2 separate regions of the Homo sapiens genome follow, and region 2 is linked to region 1. The links come from fine-mapping of genetic effects on gene expression. A gene starts in region 1. The other region holds a variant in brackets. All regions are shown on one strand. Distances are between the middles of the regions.

Region 1 (16,414 bases):
GGGTGAGATGAGATGTAATTACAAAAACAGAGACTATATATTGAGCGCTAACTGTGAATAAGGGTCCTACATTCATTACTGTCTTGTGTAATCCCCATATTATTGCATGGTAAACATTACCATACCCATTGTGCACATATGAGAATAAAAGTTTAAGGGATGTGAGGTAACATGCTCAGAGTCCCGCAACTAATAAGCAATAGAGGCAGCAGGAGTGGAACCTAGAGCTCTTTGGTGGTACGGCCTCTGTTCCTTGTACTACACCTTCTACTACAGGAGCACCTACAGAGGGTGATGAGGACCTTCCTCAGTATTGCAAACATACTGACTGAAATACAGCCAAAGAATGGTGAAGATGCAAGACACCTCATAAAGTCAATGAACTTCAGCCCCACATTCAGAACATCCAATCTTAGGCCATCTGTCCTTTGTACTGAGGTTTCTCAAAGTCAATTGGAGGACCTCCTACTTGCTTTAGAATCACCTGCTACATGTGCTAAAATCTAAATTCCATGGCCCCACCCCAGAAACACTGAATGAGAATATCAAAGGATGAGGCCTAGAGACCTCCATTTCTAAGAAGGCAAGCAGGCACTCTAGGCCAGTGTTTTTCAAACTATAAGTCATGAAATCAATTTGATAGATAATACCTAGTATTTTTTGTTTAATAAAATGGCTTGAAACAGATTGGATTTATAAAGATTAGTTAGGAATAGAAAATATCAGAGGGCACTGCACTTTGTCCTGTTTCAGGAAACTTGTTTCAGTTCTTTTATGTGGATTGGGATGTTAAAGGTATTTTTTATAATATACCTCAGTCAAAAGTATTTGAGAAATACAGCTGTTTTGAATAATTTTTACCCCATTCTTATTTCTCCTCTAAAGTAGGTTATTGGCCTTTTATTTAATTATTCCTATTACAAAAAATGCAACCTTGTATGTTCCTTTTAAGAGTTCAGTTATTCTGTTCCAGGAGTTTGTTTTATTCCCTGAACTTTTCATCCGAGGACCATGTTTAACCATTGGCTTAATTATTTAATCAACATTTTAAAATATTTTTAATTTTTTAAGATTTCATAAAATCCAATTCATTCTCATTGTTACTTTGTGTTTTTCTGTTTTGTTTTGTTTTGTTTTGTTTTGTTTTGTTTTGGAGACAGAGTCTTGCTCTGTCGCCCAGGCTGGAGTGCTGTGGCACAATCTCAGCTCATTGAAACCTCCAGGTTCAAGGGATTCTCCTGCCTCAGCCTCCCAAGTAGCTGGGATTACAGGTGCCCACCAATACACCTGACTAATTTTTGTATTTTTAGTAAAGACAAGGTTTCACCATGTTGGCCAGGCTGGTCTCAAACTTCTGACCTCAGGTGATCCACTTGCTTCCGCCTCCCGAAGTGCTGGGATTACAGGTGTGAGCCACCAAACCTAGCCTGTCACTTTGCATTTTATACAAACCTTCTCATTATCTGAAGTCATTTCACTATCTAGATTCTCGAACTTACATATTTTAACTTATTAAGTTTACATTTTGGTACATTTGGTAATATCAATGCTTCATGGTCTACATTTAATCTTTTAAGTCTTTCATTCTCTCATCTTCTATTTATATATACTTTTAGATGAAATTCTTTACTGGCTTGCTTCTTTTGTATTCTCTCACATAACTGGCACTTATTTCAATTCTTACCTGTTTCCTTGAAAGCAAAAAAAAAAAAATGAAGACAATCCCCATTAATACATGAGGATTTTCTGGGTATATCTGTACAGTTTTAAAATGATGTACTGGCATTTCAAGGAAATATAACTGCCTTCTAAAGGATAATATCACATATGAACATTGAGCGAAGTTGTAATCAAAAAGTGCTTTCCACAGGTATGACTTAAAATACAGAAATACTGACAATTAGACACAGTATGTGATGACTACCCTTGAGGTAGTACAACACCCAGTGACTGAATGACAGTCACAGAATCTTCAAGCTGGAAGAGCCTCCATTCAGTCTCAGTCTTTCTCTTTACCTATTCCCTTCATAGCAGTGTTGCTCAGTGTACTGAGGACTGCCTGCATCTGATTTCCCTGGGACACACGATAAAAACAAAGCAGTAAGATTACAATGTCCTTAGTAAAGTTGAGTTTGTTTTCATTTCATAGTGACAAGAAGGAATCTGACAAAAAATACAGGAGAGATACCACTCAGGCCCATTTCAAAAGGTACCCTCAGTGGTGAAATGTTAAACAATGAGATGGACTTCAAGGTACAAGTTCAAGAAAAGCATCTTCCTCTTAAGTTAAGCACCTGCTTAAGGTTAAATCTTAAAGCACAGGTATGCCACGTTGGTGGTAATGTAATATGTTAAAATTAATGCCTATATTTAGTAATTTGGAGCATTTGATGTAACAATTGTCAACATTTTATATACTTTTTTAAGACACTAATAATAACTTCAGGGACTTCCTGTAGTACAGCAAAAAGGCACATCTGTAATGGAACTGTTTTCAAAAAGTTCTTTTTTTAGTAGTATAGAGCTGTGAAGCCTTTACCATTTCTATTAAAGATTTCTAATATAAAAGTAATTGAAATTCATGACAAGATCTACTTAAAAATATACCCCTTGCTTTTACCCATGTTCTTTATGAAATGTAAGAAAACATATACTGTTAGTAGGCTGACTATTGACTAGTAATTAAAAATTGCCTGTGATTTTACTGAAAAGTGTGGCTTTATAAATATTTTAGCTACTGAGTTAGATTTTCATGAGTTGCACAACATCTTCAGACCTATTTATTTTTACAACATACAGAAAACTTATCAACTACGTAGTTACTTACGGCACAGGCCAATCGTAATCATATGTGCAACCTCATTTTCATTCAAAGATATGTTCTAAATTCAATGTCTACATGAATCTGTTTTAATGGATTAAGTATAAAAATCAGATCTATAAGGTCAAAAGTGCTATATATACCATTTTCAAAGTATGTTAAAAGCACAGCTATCTCAAAAACTCATATACCTTGAACAAAAAAATGGATACGAAGATCAAGATACATTTTCTTAATGTTTCAAAAATTGCAAATTTTAAAAAACATCTATGTCTCTAGAGAAAGATTTTTCCTAAAACTGCCACAGTACCTCCAAAGAGGTAACACTAGGAAACAATATAGATGAGCCACCTTTTCAATAGCTAGCATTAAATGTGAAATGCAAACTAGGGCTTCAGTTTCAGAACCTAACAGAGACATGCAGAATAATAAAATGGGAAGTTTGGAAACACTTGGAAATGGAGAAGCAAAAACGTCTTTAAATTCTTATTTTGATAAGTAAGCCTCAAATCTAATAGATACATTTTAGATGCCAATAACTGGCAATTCATTGTCAAAATGACTTTTTTTAGATCACTATTACAAGATTTACACTATCAGAACTACTTCACTGACTTCAAAGTCCAAGACTGTTCTTGAAAATATTGTTTTAATGAAGCAGTCACTTGATATCTCAAAGAAATACAAGCACTTATCAGACTTTTATTCTCAACATTACTAACCTATCATATTAATTTCTGAATTGGTCAAACACATTTCCATGGGGAAGGAATATTAACAGTTTGTTGCAATGAACAAAATAATGTGCCTAACAGTATAAATGTGGTGTTCTTTAGTAATCAAGAATGCATTTTGAATACTCTTGCCCAAAATGAAACTTTTCAAACAAGCTTTAAAAAAACTCAAAGACAATGAAATCCATGTATTTTAGTGTGCACTAAATTCAACTTATAGAACCTTCTCATTTTGACACTCCGATTGGCCTGCTATGTATGTGATGTATTCTGAGCTCTTAGTGAACAAACCACCTAATTATCAGCAGTAATGCAATATTTATATTCCATAGAAAATGTTCGATGCAAAACATATACAGATTATCTAAAGTTCTCTAGATTTTCTAAATGTTCAATGCAAAACTTACATAGATTATCTAAAGTCTTCAATAACATGAAAGTATATTTTGTTACCAAATGGACACTACCAGAAAGGTCTAGTCCTCTAACTCAATACTAAGACAACAGTTTTATATTCTTAATACAAAGACAATAATTTTGTTAATGTACACATTATGTCAGCAATCCAGGAAACACCACAGATGAGGTCTCTAAATTTTCTTTCACAGAAAAGTAAGTTCAAGTTCATTTTCATTCACAAAATACAATCTCTAAATTCACTATGGTAATATTACAAAGCACTACAGCTGATTTACACAATTTAGTACTAGTTTCCAAACATCAACAACTCAAGAGTACCTGGGGTGTTCCTTTACAATGGAGGGGCAAACTTACAAGGTGGTTTTCTGCAGATTAGGCTCACTGTGCTGCTTTCAAATGCTCTGTAAACCCTCAGTTCTTACCCACACTGTTACCTCTCACAAATTTTCCACACACTTACTGTCCCACACATATTTTGCAGATTTTTCCACTTGGGAGTCATATATCTGAAAAAGGCACTTAACAACAGATCTCAAAGTCTTTGTTTATTAAATTTACAGGCTACCGAATTGTTCCTAATTTCTCCAAACATGTAAGTTTTAAAAGAAATTATGATCAATTTTGAATCAAATTAGTGCACTAAACGCTAGATTTACCACACTGCCAATCCCACCTTTCCCCACCCCAAAAGTAACTGTTACAAACACCACAGGTTACTCAAGAAAGAGAACTTGAGAGAGAGTAAGCAAATGTCAGTCACTATAATTAGAGGACTTCTGCACAATGCTTCCTTGGGTTTTTAATAATTCTCTCCACTCATACACTGCACTCTTCCTATAGTATTGTCTAGCATTAAATTTACTAGACCTTCAATGCCATGTAAAATTTCATTATAAATTAAAATGTCTATTTGAGAATAAGTTTTGAAACGACAATTACTTGTAGATAAACACAAAATGAATATTTACTATCTTAATAATAACCCACAGCTGAATTCTAAACACTAAGAATCATAAACTGACTTATGCTGTGGGAAACTCAGTGAGACAAGGTTTCTGGGGTGCTGTAACCCCAATAAAGCATCTTCCTCTGTGAACAATAAAGACCCTTATGTCATTACTAATTGTCATCCTGCTTCCCTGTACGAACAGTTTGCATACTTACCCAGGAAGGCAAATGGAAAGTACACAGGGAGGAAGATGAACTGCGGCAAAGCCTTTGTCATATGATAGTGACCTATAAAGTATCAAATAAAGGTACATCATCAGTATAGTAGGGCTTTACAATAGTACAGTCCCAAGTCCTGTAACATCTATGAAGAGAAGGTACCAAAACCCAGGAGTCCAGCTCCCACTAACCCCTCCCCTTTCTCTACCACCCCCCGACACTGGAGAACTGTGGGAACAGAAGGCAAAGAAGCTCCCCGTATTGAAAGGGCAGAGGCTGGGGGGCAACCCAACTGGCATTCTAGGGTATCTCCCGTACCCTCGCTTCCTACTCCCCACATGTACAAAGCAGAAAGTTGATCCATTCTGCAAACGCAAAAACCACACCGCGATCATTCATCAACTTGCACAAGTGATCACCGCCCCCAGGACAAACACACCAGTAACCAAATCATAGGGATCGATAGGCAGCCCGAGCCTCGCCTTGCCCAGGAGACGGCGGGAGGTGCCACCGCGGCGGCAGCGGGTCCAGGTATCGAAGCCCTCAGCCTTTCAGACCTGGGCGGCCACTGCCGTCTCCCAAACACCCAGCCCGGGTCACAATCCCCAGATTGGAGATAGGAACCGACCAGGGAAAACACATTCGCCAAAGCCCACAGCGGCAAGTGCAGGGCCACCAGGTCTGCGAGGTCGGGGTGGGGGGAGCTAGGAAACAAGGAGGGAGGAAGAGAGCGAGGGATCCCACCCCGGCTTTGTTGCTGGTCACCATCAAGTTTGCATCTTAGTACAAAATGTCGATCTTAAAGGCTGACAAGACAGAGGCAGAGGCAGTGGGAGAAAGAGAAAGGGAATAGAGTCCATCTTGCTTTGGGAAAGAGGGGGGAAGAAAAAATGAAGTGCAAATACCACACTCCGGGCGTAAAAGTCTGCTAAACACCTTTCCATAACGGAGGAGCAACGAGTGGGGTGTCCCCGTGCCCGTGCCTGCTCGAACTGGCGGCGGTCTGGGCAGAAAACGCCTCCCTCTCCTCCTCTTCCTCCTTCTTCCCCTCCTCCTTCTCCCTCTCCTCCTCCTCCTCCCGCGGGCCCCGGCGAAGATCCCGCCGCCACTGCCTCTGCCTCCGCTGCCCCCCAGGGAGGCACCGCCGGCGCCCGGCCCGGCGCTGCCATTCCGGGCTTGGACCGCGCGGCGCAGAGCGCGTGGGGCCGGACCCGGGGTGGCCGCGCGGGGACGTCGGCGCCGGGGACCCCCGGCGCCCCTGGGCCGCTGGCTGCCTACAAAAGTCGCGCGAGCAGAGGTGGCGGCGGCGCGCAGGGGCGGGGGGCCGCGTGGGGGCCCCCACGCCGCCAGTGGGCAACCCCAGGAGATGGCGAAGAACGCCCCTCCCCGCGCGGGGAAAGTACCCCAGTCCCAGTCAGCCACCCCGGGAACGGCAGCCCGGCGTCCGCGGCCGGGAGAAGAGAACTGGACGTGTCATTAGCAGGACAGGCAATGGTTTCAAAGCCCCAGGCCAATGACCATTAGCAGAGGCAGAGCTCGCTCCGTCCCCATCCCCCACAACCTCCACCCACCTTCCCCTTCGCCCCCCCCCCCACCTCCACCCCACCTCGCGAAACTTTTCAACAAGATCCACCTGGACTAATTTGTCCACAGACAGTTAAAATATTGACTAGACCCTACACACTGGGAAGGAAGGGGAATGCACGCTTTATTTTCCTTCCTACAGAAAGGAAAGCAAAAAATAGCTTCTCTCTCTGTCTCTCCCTCTCCCCCCCCCCCCCTCTGTCGTACATGTTGTGTCTTAGCTTTTTGCATCGTTTCGTTTTACCTTCCTCATTTAGCAGAAATGATCGCGGCTATTTCACACATAAACGTGTTCCAGATTCTGGGATTCAGGGTCCTTGTAAATTACAGGACTCGGGTTCGGTCTCAGTTATGTTAAGTTTCATACAATACCAAAAAATAAATAAAATATGATAATAAATTTCAGAGGGTGAGTGAGCGAGACGAGGTGGAGGAGGAAAAGAAACCTCGAGTCTGATTTCTGTAATTTACTAGCGACCCGGATCGCAGCAAATAACAGTGTAACACGAGTGTGGCTTAAGAGGGCTAGGGAGCTCTTTCTAGAGGCATCGACCCCATCCCCGGATAAAGGATCTGCAAGTTTTCTGTCATCGCGACCAGGCAAAGCCGTAACTTACCTTCAGAAATAAGACTTTAAACGGCCAAGGCCTTCCTCCTCCCCTCCACCACCACCCTCAGCCTCGCTCTCTCCACCTTAAACTTATTGACACAACATAATCCCACATTCAAGCAAAATCCTGACACAGCCTCCCTCCTCCTCTTCCCCCTCCTCTCTTCCCTCCCGTTCTCTCTCTCCCTCTCTCTCTGTCTCCCTCTCTCCCCCCCCTTCCCTCCCTCTTCTCTCTCCCCTTCTCCCTCGCCCTCTTCCCCCTCTCCCCCTATTCTTCCTCCAGGCTACTCTGGCACTAAAACAGCACTTTCTCTACTCGCCGCGCATTTGGGTAGGGGTGGGGGGTGAGAGGGCACTGATCTGCGGGGCCGGAACACCCAAATCCCAACTCTCCAGATGAACGAGCAACTGGGCTGCTGTTCCCGGTCACCAACGCAGACGAAACGTTCAATAAATCCACCGAAGGCTGGCTCCTCGTACCTTCCTCCACTGCCCCTGCTCCCCAGGCCCCACCTCCCCGGCAGCCGAGACCAGGCAGGGCTCCACGTACTTTCGCCGAGATGAAGTTTGGGGCTCCCCGGGCGGCCACGAGCCGCCCGCCGGCGTGAGGGCTCTGTTGTTGTTTTCCTGGGGCCGCTCCAGCCCGCGCCCCGGCGCCCGTGCCCCTCTCAGGCGGCGCTGCCTGTGTGCCGAGAGGTGCTGGTTGCAAACGCAGCCTGGCACCGGCTGGCCTACTACTCCCCAGCCCGGCCCCCAGCCTCCCGCTCGCAGGGCACTGCCTCAGCGCCCCCCGCCCCCCGGCCCCAGCCGGCGCGGCCGCCGCGACCCTCGCCCCCGACCTCTCCCGACCCAAAGTTTTGGCGGAGGGGGAAAGTGCCCAGGGAGCGGGCCGGCTGGCGGCGGCTCCGGACGCGCGGGGTTCCCTCCGTCTTCCTCAAGTCCACCCTACCGGCTGCCGCCGCCGCCGCCGCCGCCGCCGCCGCTGCTCCTGCCGCGGAGTCCTTGGGGCTGCAGCCCGGCGGCTCGCAAGTGAGTAGGAAAACAGAAAGTGAGGGGAGTGCGCCCAGGGAGGGCTGGGGATGGGGGGCGCCTACCTCGCGGGCTCGCCGGGCGTGAGGGCGTGTGTGTAGCTAGCCCTCAGCGGCCAGTCAGGGTTTCTCTATGGGAAAGTGGAGAGAAGCTCGCGGAGCCGCTCTGCCTCCGCTTCACTGTACACTGCTCCACATACAGTACATGCAACCCGGAGAGACTGAAAACACTCATTTTATATAAGGCAGCCTGCCATTGGCCCGCGCAGTGACGGACAGGCCGCGCAGCCAAACAAGAGGCCCGTTACACCCAAACACACGCACACATACACACATTTTACAGAGACACACAAAGATCATCACATTTTCTATTTTCTAATGTTCGGGACCTGTAGACAGTAGGAGAGGACAGGTAAAGAGGCCCAGCAGAGTGGGGTAAAGGGGAAAACCCCTGTCTGCACCAAGTTGCAAGGCTTGAAACTGGTGTCCTTTTGACTTGGGAGGGTTATGGTAATAAACTACAACTCCACTGGATATGGAAGTGAGGGGGGTTTTTCATCGCTGCCTTTTGGTGCCCCATGGAAGAGGCCTGCATTGTGTTACGATTTTACAGCCTGACCCGGCTAACAAGTGGCCAAGAAAGGCTTTTATCACCTTGGATTTCTTTTGTCAATGGGTTAGCTATCACATAGGCCAAAATAGTGCAAGATAAGTTTATCAGGACTCTAATGCATTGAGGTTGTTAGTGCCTCATTCGTAGGTAGATTCAAAAAAATCAATATAACAACACACAAAGATAAACATTTTGCTGAAATAGCCAAACAACTTTTAACTGGTCAGTGGACTGCCATCACCTGTGTGGACATGCAAACTGTGCTGTTAGGTAAAATAAGTCATGGAAGATTGGCTATTGACCCTTAGCCTTCAAAACAGACCTTTGATTCAATATATACATGATTTATATTTTGCATATTATATATAAAAATATATGACTCTTTACATATTTCACATCTCATGTGAACATCATATGTTGCATGACTTTTGGAGATGATGAACCTCAGGACTGGTCTTTCTGATTGTTTTTCAACAATGCAACTTCAGAAGATTATATGAGACAGTTCAATACACATAAGTCAACAGGTTGGTGGAAAGAAGTCAAAGCTGGAAATTAGAAGGAATAAATTGTAGATTAAACTCTTTAACCAGCTGAGCAATCTTGAGCAAGTTACTTAACCTCTCCAATGCTCAGACTTGGTTTTGATTTTTAAGATTAAAATAAGAAGCTTTTCCAGATTCCCTCAATTAAATGTTTATTCAGCATCTACTATGTGTCAGGCATTATCTTAGGCCTAGATGTTTTCTTAGGGTTCCTTCCGTTTTAAGAGTTGGTGAATTATTCTCAAATACAAACATTTTGGAGATTACATAAACACTACGATTTTATGGCCTAGGTAAGTAGCTTTAAAACTTAAAGAAAACCCAACTAGGGCAACTTATTTCAGTTCCCCTTTTATTTCCTTGATGCTGTCTTAAGGTTTTTCTCTCGCATCCATAAAGTTGTTAAAAGAGTGTATGTGTGCATGTGAGCACTCCTGTGTAAGAGGGAGAAAGAGAAACAAAATCAGAAAAGTTTAAAAAGTTCAGAAAACAAAGTGGTATTTAGAAATGTGATGTTTATTTTTTTAGAAAAATCATTTTTAAAAGGAAAAGTATATAAAAAATCACAGCATTTTATTTTATTTTATTTTTGAGATGGAGTCTAACCCTGTAGCCCAGGCTGGAGTTCAATGGCGTGATCTCAGCTCACTGCAACCTCCGCCTCCCGGGTTCAAGAGATTCTCCCACCTCAGCCTCCCGAGTAAGCTGGGACTACAGGCACCTGCCATCATGCCTGGCTAATTTTTGTATTTTTGTAGAGACAGAGTTTCACCATGTTAGTCAGGCTGGTCTCGAACTCCTGACCTCAGGTGGTCCACCTGCCTCGGCCTCCCAAAGTGTTGAGATTACAGGCATGAGCCACAGCGCCCAGCCAATCACAGCATTTTAAACAGATAATATCAAAGTTTGTATTAGGGGTGGGCGCGGTGGCTCACATCTGTAATCCCAGCACTTTGTGAGATGGAGGCGGGTGGATGACCTGAGGTCAGGAGTTCGAGACCAGCCTGTCCAACACGGTGAAACCCCCGTCTCTACTAAAAATACAAAAATTAGCTGAACGTAGTGGTGGCACCTGTAATCCCAGCTATTCGGGAAGCTGAGGCAGGAGAATCACTAGAACCCAGGAGGTGGAGGTTGCAGTGAGTACAGACTGCACCATTGCACTCCTGCCTGGGGGACAGGGCGAGACTCCGTCTCAAAAAAAAAAAAAAAGTCTATTAATGGCAGTTTCATTTAGTTGACACAAGGAACAAAATGTTCTTTATCCACACTACACTGCTCTGAGGTCAGTGCTAAGTATTATCACCTCTAGTTTACCCATAGGAGAAATGAGTCAGGGACAAGTTATATAGCCTGCTCCATATTGCACAGAATGATAATGAAGAAGGAACTTAAACCGAGGACTTTTAATACCCAGCACAGGTTTTGAGTAATTTGACAACCCTTCCCTCCAAATCATGAACTTCAGAGGCAAGAGGGAATTGGAGGGAAAACCAAAAAAACTTTCTTAGAATTTCACTGTGCTCCTTTTTGAAAAGGAAAAAAAGTCGACAGGAGTTGCTACATTTAATTGCAGAGTGAAGTGTTGTGCATTATTTGCTAGTAGAACTATGTTGTGAAAAATAGAAAAGCCTATCCTACTCCCCACTCTTATCCCCAACCTCCAACCATAGGAAAACATTCTTCATATTTTTATGGTCACAAGATATTTTTGTTGAATTACACTTAGCTTAGCAGAATTATTTAGAGGTACGGTCTTCAAACTTTTAGATCACACATTGCTATCAGTAAAATGTTTGAGCATGTAGTCTCAATATGTATATTCATGTACACATTAAAAATTCACCACTGGACCAGGCATCGTGGCTCACACCTGTAATCCCAGTGCTTTGGAAGGCCAAGGCAGGAGGACTGCTTGAGGCCAGGAGTTCAAGACCAACAGTTTGAGACCAGCCTGATCAAGATAGAGAGACACTGTCTCTACCAAAAAAGAAAAAAAAAATGCACCATTGCATAGATTATTATTTATTATTATAAATCATATATTTACAAAAACAAAATTTAAAAGCATGAGATAAAAAATAAATAAGAGTTTAATTTCTTCTATAGTCCATAGAAGTGTGGATTCCTATGATAGAGTCTTAGCACATGCCCCAGGACTTTGCATTCCAGTTTGGACACCTCTGAGAGTGCAAGGTGCTAACTGACCAAGACTGATGCAGAAGAACATAAAGTGTATTGCAGTGACTTCCTATGAGTCATTACTGCTACTAGAAAATTGTTAGGTCCACAGGCCTTCGGATTGAGAGAATGACACCTTTTTAAACACATATTATATATTGGTACCGTATTTCCATTGGGCGTCATGTTCCAGCATAAGCCATTTTTCAATATTCTTTGGCAGAATATTTATTGAGAGGGTTCCATGTGCTCTTGTGCATGTCAGATGCCAGAAAAGGAAAACTACCTGCTCCTAGGAGAAGGGATAGAATAGAATTCCATTCTACTGTGTGGTCCGTAGGGCCTCACTGCTAAGTAAGGAAAAGAGGCTTAGAGCTAACTTTAATGTAGTATTTTACCATTTTGGAAATACTTTTAAAATGTTTATTACCTCATTTGAGAATAAATACCAAGAAATTTTAAATGCTAGTTATGCTCGAAACTTAAAATATGATCAGAAAAAATCATAGCTTTCATGGAGTTTACTTAATTTTTATAATGTAGGGTTATGAAAATAAAAACAATGGTTGGTTACTTGGGCAAAATGGCATTAAAAAGGGACGACCCTTTTCCCTTTTTGTTTTCACATTTGATGACCAATCACAGACTAAACTTACATGATTATCGTACTTCTCCTTCTCATGGCTTTGTCTGTTTTCTGAATTTTATTTTATATGGGCCATTTTTTGTGACATAAAATAATTTTGGGAAAGTAAATTTAAGTGTGTGTTTAGATGTGTATAAACAAATGTATATATTGTTTAAATGTATGCCTACACATAATTTATTTCTTTATTCATATATGACTTCTTTATACAATCCTAATACAAATCCTGATTTTGCCACTTTCTTTTTTTTTTTTTTTGAGACAGAGTCTTGCTCTGTCTCCAGGCTGGAGTGCAGTGGCACAATCTCCGCTCACTGCACCTTCTGCCTCCCCGGTTCAGGCGATTCTCCTGCCTCAGCCTCCCAAGTAGCTGGGATTACAGGTGCACGCCACCATGCCCGGCTAATTTTTGTATTTTTAGTAGAGACGGGATTTCACCATGTTGGCCAGGATGGTCTCCATCTCTTGACCTCGTGATCTGCCCGCCTCGGCCTCCCAAAGTGCTGGGATTACAGGTGTGAGCCACCGCGCCGGGCCCTGATTGTGCCACTTTCTAGCTGAGTAACTTTGGAAAAATTCCCCAATCACTTTGACTCAGTTTCCTTGTTTATTAAATGGGAATAATCATAATTGAAACAATACATATAAAACGCATCAGCCTGGAATATACTAAAGGTTCAATCAGTATTATTCGTGTTTATCTTTCCACACAGACAAACCAATGACAGATGCTTTACAGAAAGTGTTCTAGGACTTAACTATCATATCAAATGGAGTTTATGGAACCTGTTACAACTTACTTGCCCAGTGTTTGCAATTTCCTTTTAGCCTACACTCTACCAGCTCCACCATCTCTGCACATAAAAGAGATGTCAGCCTGATCCCAGGATAAAGCAAACATCTTATTGGGTGGGCATTATTAAGCACCTAAAAAAGCAAACTTGTAATAAATCACTCTTTGAAACAGGCCTTGTTTTGTGCACTGAAACTCTAGATAGTTACAATGATGAGGGTCTGCCTTACATAACAATTTATGACTTGTACTTGACCTTGCTGAGCTTCAGCGTTTTTTCTCTTTCTATAGGAAAAAGTGTTTTTTCTCTTTCTACAGGAAAATAAATAGAGAAAACCATACCTTTCTCCTCAAGCCAATGCAAAGGCAGTAAAAATTAGAGCTTGGATAGTTGGACCACTTGTTAGCACCAATGCAGAAATTCATAATCTTGAAGAGAACCAGCTTCTATGGTGTCCCAGAAGACTTGGGGATAAGAAAGAAAGAGGAGAATATCCTGCTTTCCTAGGGTGATTCTTGGGGCCAAACATCTTTGAATTCCCACTCTCCTGTGATCTTTTATAGCATTTTATCTATGTTATTCTTAAGGCATTCAAATATCTTGCCTTGCATTATGTTATGTATGTATTGGTAGAGATCTTTATTTGATGGCAAACACCTTGAGGAAAATGTTGTCTCCTTCAAGGTTTTATTTTCCAACAGTGGCTAGAACAGTAACTAATACATGACTGACATGTAACAATAACAACAAAGATTTGTAAAATTAATGAAGAAGACAAGCAAAAACAAACAAAAATGCCATAAATTCTAAGGAAGCTCAGAGAGAATCCAAGGATAAGAGAAGTGTCAGAAAAGGTTGGGGGGGTCCCAGATATATGGTAAACAGAACTTACATTGTAGGCATTATAAATTATACTTGCATATTGTTGTAATTTTCTAAAGCACTTTTACATGAGACAGCCTAGCATACTCACTAAAATCCAGATGAGGTAGGTGAGACAGATAGAGGGACCTTCTTTATAAATGAAAACAATTAAAGCGAGGAAATGTTAAATTATTCCTTTAATATTATAAAGCTAGTAACAGAGTTGGGTTAATACAAAGGTCCTAGACTTCTCATTCTGGAAGCTGTCTACTTTTTTTTTGGAGGAAGGGAGAGGGGACTGACCAGGGAGACACTTAAGAATCATACCATAAAAATAGGTCTCTAAGTGGACAATGATTTTACACTAATGGAGTTGATCATCAAATCAGTATGCTTTAGCGTTAGCAGAGAGGTCTTTCTAGCCATGGTCCCATTAGAAGCTTCAACAACATCCCCAGCAAGGAACTTCTGCTGTGACACATCCATATCCTGGGAACTCTCTTCTTGCCAAGACAGTCTATTTCATCTTCTGACAGTTTTGACCACTACAAAGTTCTTTTTGGTATTTTAACATCATTTCTCTCCTTTTAAGTTTCACATTGTTTCTTTTTCTACCCCCTTGAGACCACAAAAAAAAATCTAATCCCTCTTCCATGTGGCACTTGATATATATATATGAAGACAGCTATCATGACTGCCCCCTGAATTGAGTTGTCCATTTTCCAAGCTAATAGTCCCAAGTCCTTAAAACTTTCTTCCTAGGAACCATTGTTGATTCTTGGTCTCTCAAACCCTGCCTATTGTCTTTGTGGATGTGCTCCTTGATGTGTGATATACAGAGCAGGTGGGAGCTGAGGCAGTGTGCAGAACAGCATGACCATGGCTCCTTGATACAATATTTCTATTAATGCAGCTTGAGATAGAGCATGTTTTTTTGGCAGTCACTTTGTTACAAATCACTCTGCTGACCCATATTGTGCTTATTCTCAAAAACAAAAAACGTTTTTAAAACGTGGGCTGTTAAGCCGTGTCTTCTCCATTGTGTATTGTATCATTTATTTGGGACATATTGAGGCATACGCCTTTTTAACCTTGGTATTGTACAGTGATTAAGAGCTGAGTTTTTGGAGTTATACCAAGATGGGTCAGTATTTGGATCCAATACTTACTAACTTTGTAAACTTGGACAAATTATATAACTTCCCTTTGCTTCAGTTCCTCATGTAAAAAAGAGGTAATAATAATGTACCTTATAAGGTTATTACAATAATTAAGTAATATATGTAAAATACTTAAAACAGTGCTTGTCATGTACGAAGTACACAAAGTAGAGTTTTCCTTTCTCTTTTTTTTTTTTTTAAGCCGGTGAGATTCAGCCCATAATTCCACTTTGCCAACATCTTTTTGTATGCGATCATTTTATTCAACACATTTGCTATTGATCTCAGCATCTTGGTTCATTCACAAATTTCATGGCTTCTTTACGTTTTTCCAAGTTGTTTTTAAAAGCATTGTCCAAGGCAGAACCAAAAAGCACCCACCTCCCAATATATTGGTTAACATTGATTTATTAACCAGCACTCCCATGGCCACAGTTGTTGAGCCATGATAGAGTCGCCTATTTTCACCTAAATTTTTATTATTTAAACCTAAAGAAATTTATAGAGAATAATATAATGTAGCGGCCACCTAGGAGCTTTATTACTACTTAACATGTTATTATACTGCCTCAGATTTATTTATAAGAGGTAAAACATTGCACATTCAGTTGAAATCACCTTCCCTGGTCCAGTCCTCTTCCACTTTTCCCCAGAGGTGACCATTATTGTATAATTTCACTCTCATCCTATCCATATTTTTTGCAGTTCATTTATAAAAATACTTGATGTAGCTTTATCAAAAAGGGTTTATGAAATTTGCATTTACTAATATTATCAGAGAGTTCTTTGATAAGTGGGGTATTTAATAATGCTGGTTAATTAAAATAAAAAAAAGAAATTATAGAAGGATATGGGGTAGCTCCTAGAAATAAAGAAGAAGCTAGAGAATGAGATCTCAGAAAGCCCAAAAACAGTGTCACCTCCAGGTATTGACATCATTTTAGGTTAGAATATCTTCATTATGATGAATTTGCTCAAACTTTGTTCCATGCATTTATCATGCCACTAAAGAGAGTGGGAGAGTGGCTTCGCCATGTTTGGTGCTTACCCTTTGGCTAGGGTAGTAGAGGACACTTTGCTTGCTTACCTGGTGTGGGGAGGAGGTGCGGTGAGGGAGGAGGCAAGAAGTCGAGTTAGGACAGAAATATTTAGAGGGATACAATGTATTGGTAACATTATGGTTATTGGTGGATTCACAGATGTTCATTTTATAAGGAATATAAATGTTAGATTATTTTTGTGATATG
Region 2 (16,414 bases), 820 kb after region 1:
AACTTATTAACTCCCTTCTTTGACTCCAGAACTCTGACATAAAGACTTATTGCCTATATTTAAATTCCAGCTCAGAAATGGGCTACCTTGGGGATCTTTGGAAAAAATTTGAATCTATCTTAGCTTTATGTTCTCCCCTGTAAAAGGGGATAATTATAATATAAGTCTTTAAGGATATATAAAGATGAACCTATCCATGTTGGTCTTCTAGCACAGTGCCTATTATGCAGTAAGTGCTGATTAAATTTTAGGTATTAGTATTAGGCATCTCACAATCCCATATTACTTCTCATACCTAGATTAATTTTTATACAGCATTCTATGCATTAACACCTAAAATAAAAACCTTTTAAGATTTTACCTCTTCCCATAACATAAGGTACTTTTTCCTTAGACTTGTATTAGAAGTCCCTATGGGCTAGAATGTCCCTATAGTCTAAAATGACCTAGAGTCCAACAGTTTTCCATGGAAATATCATGGAAATTTTTTTCTCTTAAGGTCTATTTTAGCCAGATGGATCTGTTCAATGTTCCTAAACCGATCCCCTGTAATCCTCTATAATGTGCCTTATAGAGTCTACCTTCCTTTATTCACACAATTACCCACACCTAAATTTTTTTTTTTCTCTGCAAGTCTGAATCCCATTCATTTTCAAGGGTCGGTTCTAGACAAATTGTTCTATGAAACAATGACTACCCACCCCCTCTCCTTAAAATCTGTAGCGCTTCTGGCCGGGCACGGTGGCTCATGCCTGTAATCCCAGCACTTTGGGAGGCTGAGGCGGGTGAATCATGAGGTCAGGAGATCAAGACTATCCTGGCCAACATGGTGAAACCCCGTCTCTACTAAAAATACAAAAAAATTAGCCGCCGCCGCGGCGGGCGCCTGTAGTCCCAGCTACTCGGAAGGCTGAGGCAGGACAATTGCTTGAACCCGGGAGACAGAGGCTGGAGTGAGCCGAGATCGCAGCACTGCACTCCAGCCTCGGTGACAGAGTGAGACTCCGTCTCAAAAAAAAAAAAAAATAATCTATAGTGTTTCTATTGCCTTTCTCTTCATTTGTCATATGTCATTTATTATTGCTGTCTGGCTTTTTCTTTGTTGGTCATTAATCCCAAGATAGTTTGGAAGCTCCTAGAAATGATGGACCATATTTCTCTGTATACACGTACAACCTGGCACAATACTAGGTACAGAATCAGACTCAAATGTTGACCAACGTATTGTTCCTAATATACAATGATCCGTGTAGTGTGTACATTCCACTTAATCTTGGTGAAGTGATGAGTGAATTCTTCTGAAAGCAGTGCAGATATGTGTCAGAATAAAAAAGCAAGGGCACTAAATCATTCAAGAACTGATAATGAAAGCTCTGGAAAAAATGTTTTATGTTTTATTAAAGAGATAGTAATCTTTTTTATGAATACTGTTTTAGGTATTATTGCTGCAACTTTATTTGGAACCAGGCAGATGCTGATGATCTAAGATGATGATAATCTTCACGATAAATGCAATCATTATAAATGTTAGAAACTTGCTGAATATATGTACACATAGGAGAGAGATTTAAATGGTTCTTCCTTCTTTATGTTCTTCTGATAATAAATACGTATAAAACAACATACGCTAAAGTTAATATTTGATTATTGGAAGGGCATTTTGAAATAAAACCCACATTCTCAAAGAAGTTAGATAAGGGAGATCTCAAAGAATATTTTTAGATCTATCTGTTAAAGGAAAAAATATTGAAAAACCTTCTGGAAGATTATGGATTATTTATTTTTTCTTTCATTTTTTTAGAAGAGTCGAACACAGCTGTACTTTCTATATATTTGGGAAATTTCTATACGTTTGGGAAATTGGAGATCTAATAAATGTTGACTACTACACAGCGGCTAGCCTAGTGCTGTGTACTCTAGATCTTAAATTCTTCCAATTGACATACTATTTCATTTCTTTATATATGTATGCAAAAATAATTAATTATAGTGATGATAATTTTCAAACATCTGAAGTAAGTCTCCCTTCCCCACATTAGCCAGTAAAAGAGTGAAGGAGAAAACAGAATATGTTACTGAAATATATGTTTGTTCTACATCAGCAAAAATGGTTAGAAATTAGGAGGTATCTATCAGCTTTGTTCCAGACTTACTTCACGTTATCGTGTTAAAACCGTTGAAATTGAAAATAATTTTTCACATTTTCAAGAAATTTTTCCATTTCAATAGCTTTAAACATGAATCATTCAAATGTTTGGCTAATTACTGTCTGCATTGATGACATATATGTTATTTCATTTGGCATAAAATAATTTTCATTGCTTTACAAATACTGAAAATTCAAGAAATTACCACACCCATTATAGGTGTTTTTCTAACAATTAATTATCTTGATATAACTCAAGTTCTAATTTTATTTTCATTTTAAATTTTACAAAATAGTGATTGCTATTCTCATTAGGTTGTGCTCTTTAAAAATTTAATTTCAATGTTGGCTATCGACTATTTTCCCAAATCATTTTCCCTGTTTAGGGTTTGAGATTTTTGTTTTATAAAATATTATTTATCTTGTGTTCCATTGTTGATTAACTTTAAACTTTCAAAATATATAATATGGCCAGGTGCGGTGGCTCACGTCTGTAATCCTAGCACTTTGGGAGGCCGAGGCAGGCGGATCACCTGAGGTCAGGAGTCCGAGACCAGCCTGGCCAATGTGGTGAAACCCCATCTCCACTAAAAATACAAAAATTAGCTGGGCATGGTGGCGAGCATCTGTAATCCCAGCTACTTGGGAGGCTGAGGCAGGAGAATGGTGTGAACCCGGGAGGCAGAGCTTGCAGTGAGCCAAGATCACGCCATTGTACTCCAGCCTGGGTCACAGAGCGAGACTCCGTCTCAAAAAAAAAAAAGCGTCATATGGAGACTATATTAAAAATATATCATAATTAGCTAATATAGTGCCAACATAATGTTAAATTAACTAATTTAAATTATAAACAAATAAATGCTTAGACACAGAAATTTCCCAACTAAGAACTTATCCTACAGATGCAGTCACAGAGGTATGAAAAGATACATGATCAAAGGTATAGCCAAACAATATTGAGTATTGTTTCTAATATCAAAACTGGAAATACATCTAAGCGACTCATGAAACAAATTGAGAAACTAACATACATTAGACTATTGTGCAGTTACTTAGAAGAATGAGTCAGCATTATATGTACAAATAAAATATAGTAAGATTATATGTAAATAGTAAAATCAGGAAACATTGCAGAACAGGATATATTTTTTGATCTAGTGTGTTCATATATGTTTATATATATTTATATATAATGTATATATATTTATATATAATGTATATATATTTATATATAATTTATATATAATTATATATATTTATATATACAATTTATATATATTTATATATAATTTATTTATATATTTATAAATAATTTATATAATTTATATATTTATATAATTTATTTATATATTTATAAATAAATTATATAAATTATTTATATATTTATATTATTATATATTTATATATAATTTATTTATATATATCATTTATGTGTATTTATATATAATTTATATATATTTATATATAATTGATATATATTTATATATAAACACAACCATAAATTATATATATATATACATATATAAAAACTCATAGACTCTGTCTGAAAGGATCAGCCAAAATGATTAATAATAAATTTATCTTTTAGTTTATCCAAATCACTTTTGAGGATAGGAATTGGGCAGCCTAAGCTTGGGAGTGGGCTAGATTTTTATCTTTAATTTCTTCTATAACATTTTAATATTTTGTTATGATAATAAATTAATTTTATAAGTCAACAACACAACATGATTTAACACCTGTCACTTTTTATAGGTGTTGAGATGTCCGATAGATATGAAATAAGCATCTCCACCTCAATAAATAAAAAGACAGGAATTCGACTCTAGGATTTTTATCAGTTTGTAAGAATAAAAGATGAATGCATTAAGGATGTGAATTTGTTGTATTTACCACTTACAGAAAAATTATGGTCAGCACTTTTTGACATTTTCATAAGAGGACTGTAAAACTCCAATTTCATAAATTTAGAATGACATTTGAAAGTATATCTTTCTGTGTAATTGTGTGGCTTTGTTGTCCTACTGTCAGTTATGATTGACACTTAATAATTAGGTGTGGAGATATAAAAGATGCTGAATTTTTTTAAAGTAGCTTGGATACTGATGGAAATTGTCAATTCTCTTAGAATGCTTGAGCAGAACATCAAGATCACAAGGTTTTTCCAGTTTCTCTGAGTAAGAGAAGAGGTCTCTGTGTTACAAAGGCAATTTATTAAAAAGTAAGAATACCAAATCTATGTGAGTATACATTAAAACACATTCTGCCCAACACATTGGTTATGCTCCTAATGGTTAGCATTTAGAAGCAAAATCTCTTCATTTTAATAAAACCATATGACCCTATTCCATTTGTAAAAATTCCTTATTAATGCTGGATATATTACTTTATAATGTTAAAAGGTATCCATAGTATATAGCAAATAGGGTTTCATCAATCTAAAAAGACTGAAATCAGAATATAACCTTAAATGGAAATGTAGAAAATAACCAATTTCTTTTTTAAGGCACTTAAGCACATTAAGTTAATGATCTCAAAAATTCTAGAACATAAGCCAAGATATATTTGACATATCTGGGGGCAGTTCTGTGACATGATTATGTGGAGAATTCTATTGCTAGGTTCTATTTTTTCCATCCAAAAATATTTTTTTACCGCTTGAAATGGTGAAAAAAATCATTTTTGGGAGGAGCCATCTATAAAAAACTCTCCCACTGTATTATTATTTTAAGATCTTTGTTAACTTAATTTTCTTCAAATCTTTGGTCAAAGTTTTTCAAGAAAACCACCCTTTTGCTCATTCTCAATACCTTGCAATTTTTGTTGGCTTTCAAATGCCACAGAAAATATTTTGATTATTACTTGTGTGTTGTCGTGACAGCCTTATATTTATATATTTCAGGTTTTCTCATTTCTCATTTCCTTTATTACTGCATTAAGTAGATATGACCTCATATCACTATTTCATCTGATTTTAATATCTCCCCTAAGGTCTTCTAACATCCTGTCTAAATAATCAGTAGGAAAAATTTTTTTAGAAATTATCTAAGTGTTTAAAAATCAAATATTTTTAATAGCATTTGAAACATTTTTTATAACATGTAAAACTGATTATGGTGATATTTTTCTGTTAAGTTCAAATCAGGCCTTAGATACATGTTTTTGTTAATCATTATTTATTTGGAAATTGGAAAAGATAAATCACATTGCCTACGAGATACATTGCATACTTATTTCATATAAGAAAGTTAAAATTGGTGGAATTAGGGAAGGAGAAAGAAAAATGAATTAACAAATTATGTGTCTTTTACTGGGTACTGGTTTGGAAATAAGAATGGTATCTGAAAACAGAAGTAACATGAAATTTAATTCAATACTGCAAGAACATGATGTTAGTTTTTAAAACTTTTTTCCCCTTACTCCTTTATATCAAAATGACTGTTTATTAGTCTTCCTTCCACCATATTCCAAATTTGAAAATTAGGTTAATAAGCTTTAATGTGTGTTTTTAATGGAAAAATTTTTAAGATCTTATACTGTCCTGGAAAACATTTTACTTCTGTAGCAAACCAGAAGAATGAAATAATGACATATAGAATGCTATAATGGAAACAATGTTTATGAGGGTTGTTGAGAAGTTTAGATTATGATGTAGCTATGCAACCAGTTGGACATCATTTCAGACATGTCCCTATCCATTTCTGAGCCTTTATTTCATTTGCAAAAGGTGACTAAATTGAATGAGAAAGCCCCTTCCAGCCCTAAGATACTATGTCTCTAATACCAAGTTCCCTTTGGAGTCAATATGATGGTTAGTATATTGTCGCAGCAACTCATGTAGTTCTTATATGTAGTAAGACTCAACTTTATCTGTGGATTGATCATTGTTGATATTGATTATTGATTATTATGAGTGGGAGTTTTATTCATTAATCAACAAATATTTAATGAGTACCTACTAAAACTCTAGTCTCTGAGCTATGGGAAGTTGTTGAATGAAGAACATATGTTCATGTAACTTAGAATCATCTCACAATTATAATGAAGGATAAAACTTCACATATCACATTAAATTCAGAAAAATATATAGTAATAAGTTAGGTACAATATGTTTGAATTAAAACATATTACTACAATAAATCACTTTTTTTTCTTTTTGAGACGGAGTCTCGCTCTGTTGCCCAGGCTGGAGTGTAATGGCGCGATCTCGGCTCACTGCAACCTCTGCCTCCCAGGTTCAAGCAATTCTCCTGCCTCAGCTTCCTGAGTAGCTGGGATTGCAGGAGGCTGCCACCAAGCCTGGCTAATTTTTTGTATTTTTAGTAGAGATGGGGTTTCACCATGTTTGTCAGGCTGGTCTCGAACTTCTTACCTCATGATCCACCTGCCTCAGCCTCCCAAAGTGCTGGGATTACAGGCATGAGCCACAGTGCCAGGCCAATAAATCACTTTTATGTATTAAAACATTTCAATTTTCACAATAACACTGAGGCAGTTATAAAAGATGCACACACACAAACTGCTCTGCCCATTTAAAGTATGACGTAGGTGGTCTCAGAGAAGGAAAGATCTGCAGCGGAGCCAGACTGCAGTACAAACCTCTCTGCTTCTTGGGCCTTATACTGTTTTGGAGATCCTGTGGTAGGAAAACACATATGGAGCATTTGGTACATCTCAGTAGAAGAAACATAATGTAGTTTATTCTGGAGCAATGCTTTACAGAGAATTATATGCCTTTTGAACAGTTTCTCCTTTTTGTCACTGGACACTGGTAAAAATAGAGTAGTTCACTGTGGTTCATCAAATGACCATGTGGTCAGAGTTTTCCTCAGAAGCTAGATCCAGAATTAAGATAAGTAGGCCCATCAGGAATCTATTGTAATATGGAAGTAGAGTATCTGTCATAATGCATAAGCAATGCCAGAAAACATGATTTAAGCTTGTATCTTAAGCAGATGACTTAGATACCCCCTCTATCTCTCCCCGAACCACTCACTTCACCTCCACCCCCACCACCATGTCATTCGCTTTTGTATCAGAACCTCTTATTCTGCTTTCATTTATGGCCACATAGGAATTTGGAGGAGGAATAAAGCAAAGCTTTATTTACAAATATGTTGTCTTGTTAGTCAAGCCAAAAATAGACCATGATTATGCTACTGTCTCACTCAAGGGGTGGGGGAGGTGGGAGGGTGAGGCATCAAAAATCCAATGGTGAGGGAAAGTTGATGGGCAAGCTGCATTTGGTATACCTATTCATCCATTTTATGAGGAAAGAGAAGCAATCCAAAGCAAGAATACATAGAGATTCATGAGCAGGAATAAATGGCTTGGCTAGAAGGCCAGGGCCTGAAAGAAGAAAAAAATGGAAGATAGGGGACATTGTAATGGAATAGAGGCACACAGATGTACCTTGCATAGTGGACATAAAATGTCAGCATTTTTATATTGCATGCTAATGTCACCAAAAAGCTGTCATTATGAAAGAGGCATTAAACAGCTGAAGAGACAAAATGACCCAGCCAATTAATGTCAGCCAGCCTCTGTCATTGGCCACTCCAGTGCTTGCACAAAGGGCACAAAAAAGAAATAGCCATTTGAGAGGGATGGGAGCTCTGCGTGGAGTCAAGAATATGGGCTCAAACTCATCAAGACTTATCTATCTACTGCCACTACTGACCCTTCAACCTGTCAGCAACACAGACAAATAATCTATCCCTAATGCAGCAGCATCCTCAAGAAAACCAACCAGACATTTTGTGGTAAGTTGACTACATTTGACCCCCTTTACCCTCCAATGTCAACAATTCATTTTCCCAATAATTGGTATATTTTCTGGGTATAAGTTTGCCTTTTCTGACTGCAGGATGTCAACCTGCACCACTAACCAAGGGTTTACAAAGTGATTCACTGAAATAGGATCTCACTCAATATCACGTCAGATGAAGACACCTACTTTGCAGAAATAGAGTGTGGGAGTGGGCACATGACCATGCAATCCTTTGGCCACACTCCACACTATACCACCCGGAAGCTATCGGCATGATAGAGCAACAAAATGGACTGGTGAAGGTAAACTGAGGTGCTAGCTTGGAGATGATTCCTTACAAAGACGGGGCACCACTTTCCAGGATGCGATATACACATAACATCAAGAGTTGGCAAACTTTCTGTAAAGAGTGAGATAAAAATTATTTTAGGTTTTCAGGCCATATGATCTCTGTGGCAGCTACTCAACTCTGCAATTGTAGTGTGAAAACAGCTTTAAATAATATATAAATGAATGGTTATAACTGTGTTCCAGTAAAACTTTGTTTATATAAACAGGAAATAGGATGGATTTGGCCTATTTGCCATAGTTTGCCAATCTCAACATGAGTAGATAGATGGCCTTTACATAGTTTCCTGTCCCTAATAGGTGGAATACATGAGTTCGAGAATCGAGGGATTGAAGCAAGGGTAGCCATCTTTAATATCACTTCTATTTGTGTTTCTGTCTGCACACATTTTTTATCACTCCTAGTTGTGCTTTATGGAAATTTTGTGCTTTCTGTGTACACAATCCTGATTTGCAGATTTTTTAATTTTTTTAATTTTTTTTTTTTTTTTTTTTTGAGACAGAGGTTCACTCTATCACCAGGCTGGAGTGCAGTG[A/G]TGCAATTTCGGCTCACTCCAACCTCCACCTCCTGGGTTTAAGCAATTCTCCTGTCTCAGCCTCCTTAGTAGCTGGGACTACAGGTACACGCCACCATGCCCAGCTAATTTTTGTATTTTTAGTAGAGATGGGGCTTCACCATGTTGGCCAGTATGGTCTCGGTCTCTTGACCTTGTGATCCACCCGCCTCGGCCTCCCAAAGTGCTGGGATTACAGGCGTGAGCCACCGCGCCTGGCTCTGTTTTGCAGATTTAAAACTCCTGATACCCAAAGGGAGAACACTTTTACCATGGACATAGCAAAAGTCCTATTGCATATAAACTGTGGTTTTCTCCTGGTCACCTTGAACTCCTTTGGATAAGGGACAAGCAGTAAACACAAAGAGTCACAATCCTGGCAGGAAATGGACTCTGATCATCAGGGGGAAGTAAGGCTGATGTCTTCCATTTATGAAACAGAATTCTGTGTTTGGCTCCCAAGCGATCCACTTGCATGGACAAGAACAGCAGCCACAGTCTTGGAGGCACATGGTGACCACAGACCGAAGACCAGCTGAGGTGCTAATTGAAGATTAGGAAAATCTAGAAAAATACACTGGTTTGATTTTTTTCTGCCTGGATAAAGAAGAGAGATGCTGAGGATTAATTACAGCCCTAAGATCAGCTACAGTTGCATGGGCTTAATTCATCCCATAAATCTTCTTCCTATAAGTCAAAGCCAGTTAAAATGAAAAAGCTCATCGTAACTATAACCCTTGTCATTCCAAGTCAGAACATATGTAAAGGAATAGAACTGAGCAGTACAATGGATGAAATATAGTGGATGCTGTTATGTATTGCCTGGCTTCTCCTTTAGAAATGAGGCATTATTTTCTATAGCTTCTGGGAGCAATACTATCTGACAGACTTCAGCTTTTGATTCTTTCTGTAAATTGCCTTGGGTTGGAAAGAGCTCTTTTGTCCAAGATCACATTTCCTTCTAACAAACAGCTTGCATCCAGTGACTGGTCAATGCAAGAACATAAAGGTCTGGCATCCTCAGTGCAGGCAAAACAAATTTGAAGGGGCCCTCCATGTTGGCTGTGGACTTTGTTAGATCTGCATGCAGCACAATTTTCTTCATTGTCCAATAACGCTTCTTTACCTTCCTGCCTTACTTCCCTTCCCTTCCATAGGTTTTGATCCCAGGAGTTCTCCCTAATAAATATCCTGCCTAATGATCTCCAATCTCCAATTTTACAACCATGTATTCCAAGGGAATCCTACCTGCAGTAGAAAAATTTAAGAATTAAAGTGGTTTAGCCAAACCACTTTATCCAACATCACCAAATATTATAGTTTATTAATGCCCACTAAGCCCCCAAAACCATTTGATTCAAATCTGAAAAAAGAAAGGACAAGAGTCACCTCTTGACTCTCAGAGACCTCCCCTCTTGAATCTACTGGTCAGACCTTTTCAATAGAGCTCTCTGGTGAACTACCTGTTAACAGTACTCTCCCAAGAGTGGTAGTTACCATTTCGTGCAAACAAAGCTCATATGTGGAACTGTTAAAGTGGAGAGCTCTTTTGGAGGCTGACTTACTTGATTACAACTCTACTGATGGCTCCTGGTTGTACTGAGTACACCAAGGTTTAAAAGTCCCTTCAAATGAAGAAACTGGATAAGGGATATATAGGATCTCTCTTATTATTTTTTTACAACTGTAAGTGAATCTACAATCATCTCAAAATAAAAAGTTTAATAAGAAAAGTTTACTAAAAGAGGCCTCTGTACCCACCCTGCAACAGGATAATGTACTACTACTTCTGTGATCGGTCTTCTGTGTCGAATGGTGAGTATCCATCATGCATTCAGATTGAAGGCTCCTGGGTTTATTCCATGGCTTTGATTGTCTTCCAGTTTTACCTTGAGGACAGTCAGAGACCTCTTCTGCAAGAGAACTAGCTCAGATAATCAATTGCTTTCTAGTCATGTTTCTAGAAATTCCGTATTTGCCCATAAAGTATTGGGGCATATTATGCCAGTAAGTAAGAGGTTCTAGAGGTGCTCATATTGACCCATTTTTAATTTCTGCTCAAACCAATGTTCTATTTAACAATTTGTATGAATGAGACGTGTTTTGAAAACATATGCTGCGTTTAAGGGTTGTGATATCTTAAGACATCATATAGAATTTTAGATTGAGTGACCTCTTGAAGTAGTGTTTTGGAAAATGGAAAAGATATTACTGAACAAAACGGAAAATTTATTAAAAAACAGCTTGTAAAGAATATACTCACAATCAAATAAAATAAGCTGCAAAATACGAAGTAGAAAAAAATTCTCGTCGATCCACATCAGGTTTAAGCCACCTCAATTCTGTAGTCTGTTTGTGCCACATGTAGCCTTGTGTTCAGGCAGGAAATAAGTAGGGTCATCGGCGTATCAGGGACGGTCTAGGCATAATGTAACTTAATGCTGACTTAGAGCCCATTGCAGGCACCTGAGCACAGTGGAGGGCTTTAAAGACTGGTAGTGCAGCCCACAGCCTCCGAAGAGCATTTCTTTGGAAGAATTGCAGTTTGCCCATGATATTTACTTAACATCCCTTTCAGGCTTAGTACTGAGGTTGATTGTTTGCATTTAAAATCTGGTTAAGCCACTGGAGCCATGGTTGCTAGGAAACCAGCACTTATTTGGAGACTGCTTTGCCATCTCCCTTCTAGTCACACCTCTAATTAGGAAGAGCCAACAGGTTGCAAAGTTTGTACTCACTCTTTTTCCTCTGAAAGATCACCAAGTCTAAAAATCACTCTTCCAGCGCATTCCATTTTTCTATAATAAAATCTGTTTGTGTAATACATTCCTTTGTGGTTTTTATTAAATTGTCTTCATTAAATAGGCCTTTACCTATCCCATTTCACTTATTTTCTAAATGATCTCAATGCGGACTTCCATTGTCAACAGAGCCGTTCCAGTCCCCAACCCCTGCTACCAGAGGAAAGTGTTCATTTATGAAAAAAACCAAAGGGTTAACATTTACAGTTGCTCGTATAAATAAGAGACCTATAAAGAAAGCTCATTAGTTAAATAAATCACAAGGATATTCTTTGTGCTGCTGTTCTCACACTGACAAAATTTTACATCACCGGGGCAAGTATTTACTATTTCCAGTCTGAGGCTTTACATACTTTCTTTGTTGCCATTTCTTCTTTTTACCTCCGGTCTAAAATAACATTATTTTCTCAAGTTGTTGGGCTGTGACACTACCAATTTCCTGAAATGGTGGGAACATGATCTTCCAATTCAATATACTTAAAAGGTTGGGCAGAGCTTAATAGCCTGAGAAAATAATATCAGAAAATTATGTGTTCCGTCACTTATACCAGTCATGCAGATTACAGAATCTCGGATTAGCATTTATCCAAGGCATAGAAGAAGGACATTATAAAAATATTTCATATATTTCACATCTCTTTTTTATTAACTTGCTGCCTTTTCAAGAAAAAATATGTGGAAATATGTTGTGAGGCCACTTCTGCATGTGCCGTGTGACAGGAGAGCCAGGCAGTTTGCTAGTGTTTCAGGTGATCAGAGCAGAGTTCATTTATCTAATTAGTATTTTTTGGCACCTAATAGGAGCTTTGTTAGTGGCAAAGGGTAAAAAGAAATAAGAATTAAGTTTTCTTTGCTAAAGGAATTTTTACTTCATTTAAAGGAGAATAAATATCTGCACACAGAAGCATGCAAAAACCTAAGAATATATTTATCGAAGGCAAGGACTGATTATTTGTACCCCAACGCTATTTAAGAAACTATGCAATCACAGTGCTCACCCTGGTCTGCCATATATTGTACAATCACAATCGAATATGATTGTTTGGTCAGTCACATGAATAATAACAATAAGCATTATCTCCCTCAAATATTCACCTTAAGAGCCTATATGCTATACGTGTCTTCCTATGATATCAACATCACTTAAAATATTTCTGAATACTTTCTTGAAAATGGCTTTCAAAGTCTGTCACTCACTTTTTGAATATGCTTTATCATATATAGAGACTTTGAAGTTGGATTTGGGCTTCAGAAACCATCAAATGTCATTTAAAAATGAGTCTGGTGCATATTATGGGTAATTTTTGAATATGGTTTTATTTCAAAACTGAGATGTGATTCTAAAGTAATGAGATGCTATAGAATTTTCTTCTATGTCCTGGAAAGCAATCTCTTCTATGAAAAAGAATAACAAAGATATTATTGGCAACATGGTTTCAATAAGTACGTGATCTCCAACGAGTGAACACTTTTATTCCTGTGTGTATCTGGCTTTTTCTGGCCAATTGTATTTCATCTCCTTATAAACTTAGTAAATTATAAAATGATAGTATCTTTTACTTTGTTTTGGCTATTAGGAAGCTCATAGTCAAATTCAAAACTTATATTTTTAAAAATCCCAGTACATTTTTGGGTAACTTTGCCTTGAGTCTGATTTTCTGTTTACCTTATTTTTCCCTTTCACCTGCCCTTATGATGTTTCTATCCTATTGCACTGTATATATTTCATGTACTATTTCAAATGTGTTAGGAAAAAGAACTGGGTATAAATACATGTACTCTTCTAAACTTCAATTTTTTCTTTATAGACACGTCATAATAATGAATAATTTATTCAGAGTTTTATATTTTTATTTTAAGCAAACAACAGAGAAGAAAGGATAATTGAGAGATTGTTCAGTGAAAGATCAGTGAAAAATGATCTTGTACATTTCATGAAATTTGACTTAATAGTAAATAGACTTTAAAATTTCTTTGCCCTTTATAACAGATTGACTTGAAATCTTACATAATATCAAACAACAGCAAACATTGGTTTGCTAGATTCTAGGGATTGGCAGTGAACAAACAAGAGATATTAGGTTGGTGCAAATGTAACTGCAGTTTTTCCAATTAAAAGTAATTGACACCTGAGGTCAGGAGTTCAAGACCAGCCTGGCCAACATGGCGAAACTATATATAGCTAGGCATGCTAGCAGGCGCCTGTAATCCCAGCTACCTGGGAGGCTGAGGTGGGAGAATTGCTTGAACCCAGGAGGCAGAGGCTGCAGTGAGCCGAGATTGAGCCACTGCACTCTAGCCTGGGTGACAGAGCAAAACTCCGTCTCAAAAAAAAAAAAAATAATTGAGAAATTACTGAATTTTCGGAAACATGAAAGTGTCCTGGAAGTCATGAGCACTATTCCATCTACTTTATGAGTGAGACGTGATTTTTCAATGTGAGAAAATATATAGCTACCTTGTCTCACACACACACCTGTAATTACATGTGCAGGCTATCGTCAGCCAATTTGGCATAAAGGGATAATTCTTAGCCTCTTTGAGTTTTAATCAATTATTGATTTCAACACTTGAATTAGTGAAGCGACTTGATGTTCATGGCAACGTGTAGTGATGATGCAGTATTTGCAAATGATGTATTTCTAGTAAGTTGCTTTGACACTCGGAAAACAGATCTAAATTTAAATCAATAGTCAAGATGCATTTTCATCTTACTTAAAAAAATAGTGTTATATGTTGGCATTATTAAACACTCAAATGCCCAAAACATGTTAAGTTCTGTGTGAAACGTTTTCAGCAACTAGCACAGCTACCCTGCCACCCTAGAACCTTAGGTATTAAGATAGCTGATTACAGATGATGGCATGAGAATAAATCCCTATTACTCTGTATGTTACCCATAGTGTTGAACATCACGGACTTTGGAGTCAGATAGATCTGGATTCATTATTTAACAAATTATAAATTTCTTTGTTGTCCAATTTATTTACAGTAAATGGGGATAATTACACTTACATTGTATGTTTGTTTTGAAAATTATGCATATTTAAATTGCTTAGCTCAGTAGACCAATAAATATTAACTAATAGTAAGTAATTATAACAGTAGAAGTAGTAATAAAAATAGTAGAGATAATATTAGAGTAATTACTCAAGAAACAATTGAGGATTACATATTACATATTAAAATGCAAATATTAAACAATATTTCTATATGCAAATCTATTAATCCTATAGTCCTATAAGGCATAATAAGGAGTTTGCCTTGTAGCTTCAGATTATGAGGCGTATGTGCACAGGGAAGTGAAATAGAACAGCAGTGGAGATGAGGGCTTGTGTTTTTTGGTGACTTTAATTCTACCACCATTTCTGAGATATAAACAAACTGCTTGAGACCACCCCAACTCGCTCCCTCCCCTGATAATGTCTCCACTTCCCTACCCTGATCTCCTTACTAGCTTAAAAAAAAAAAATTGGCTCTGGACAAGAAAATGTAATTTGAGAAACACAGAGGTAGATAATGTGGGAGTGGGAATGCTTACCCATATTTCTTTTACTTCTCTTTCTGGGCAAATAAGAGGATAAACATAATTTATTCTTGCATCTAATCTTGTCCATGCAGCCAATTTCTGACAGCCAAAGGCTGTCAGTAGAAGTGGTTTTTGTCACTTACAGGCCATAGCGTTGAATTGGTAGGATGAGGCCTCCAACAGTCTGTTCTTGTTTATTGATCAAGGAAGCTCAGTGTTGCAGATGATGCAGCTACAGGATGGTGAAGCTCCTAACTGCAAGTAGGGAGAGATTATGCTGGACATATAGCAGAATCTGTCTATACAATAATCATTGCTGTGGAAAACCACAAGATTATTTTTTGTTACCACACCTAGCATATTTTGATTAATACATGTGGGTAGAAAAGATTTTGATTCACTGTGTCTGTCTCTCTCTCTCTCCATCTCAGTTATTATTCTTAGTGTTTTTAAGTATTAATATGTCAATAAATACCAAGCTGATACAAAAGGAGCTTAGTTTTCTGCTTTACAAAGGTAAAGGGAGATAACTGCAAAAAATAAATTTATGAAAACTCTATATTCTTCTCCTTCCATTAAATTCAAGGTTCTCCATGCAGCATGCTTTTATGCTTTTATAACAGTAAATATAGAGTTATAATCTGTTTTCATAGACAATTTAGTGCTCTCCTATTAGGAAATGTCCATTTTGACATGAGTTTCTTCAACCAGCAGGAAAAGTCCTGAGGGACTTGAAATATAAGGTCTCCCAACTACCGCAAACTAGAAAATCAACAAATAAAAGAGAGATAGACATTCCCCACCTTTGAAAAAAGAGGTGATCTAGTTCATATTTCAAAAGTATTTTGTCTGATGCAAAATCTATCTGTGAGGCTTCCTGTCTCTTTTTGTTTCATGTCCAAGAAGTCTGAAAATAAACTCTGCAAGGAAACTTGAGAGAAGTCCACTTCAGTATATTTATAAAGACCCTGACCTACCCGAAGTCCTCTAATTATAAAAATTTGTGTAATTTTTTGAAGCTCGAAAAGGCAGAATACTAGAGGGTGGAAGAATTTACAAGAGATAAGAACCCAGATGCAATGATACATGACCAGTGTATGACATTGTTTTTGTACCATTTCACCATAAAGATGGCAGATAGGTCTGTTTCACAGATTTAGCAAATGTTAAATCAATATCATTTCCTCCAATTAGCTATCATTTTACTGCAACTAGACTAACGCATAAAACTAGGCTCTTACTCTTACTTAAGAGATTGTGCAGTAA

Alleles and levels. Alleles are on the strand shown, and positions count from the first base shown. SD is a standard deviation of normalised expression in the study named.
For the expression in subcutaneous fat of the gene that starts at base 8,576 in region 1, allele A in region 2 goes with a higher level than allele G (large effect, 0.88 SD a copy in FUSION).

Evidence for each region. PIP is the estimated chance that this variant, and not a neighbour inherited with it, causes the effect. A credible set is the group of variants that fine-mapping cannot tell apart.
Region 2: its variant is the best candidate, but not a certain one, in a credible set for the expression of BBX in subcutaneous fat (FUSION, PIP 0.78).

Annotation. Positions count from the first base shown.
Region 1 is chr3:107,515,124-107,531,537 of GRCh38, reverse strand. BBX (BBX high mobility group box domain containing) reads right to left here and starts at 8,576. Exons shown (of 18, transcript NM_001142568.3): 1 at 8,431-8,576; 2 at 5,140-5,211. RefSeq lists enhancers at 5,987-6,036, 8,910-8,959 and silencers at 6,237-6,446, 7,900-7,969, 8,080-8,169, 8,200-8,509.
Region 2 is chr3:106,694,315-106,710,728 of GRCh38, reverse strand. The region is part of intron 2 of LOC105374029 (a long non-coding RNA gene); the gene reads left to right. Among named protein-coding and RNA genes, the nearest start is that of LINC00882, 540 kb to the left of the region's middle. The variant A/G (reference allele first, on the strand shown) is at 8,801.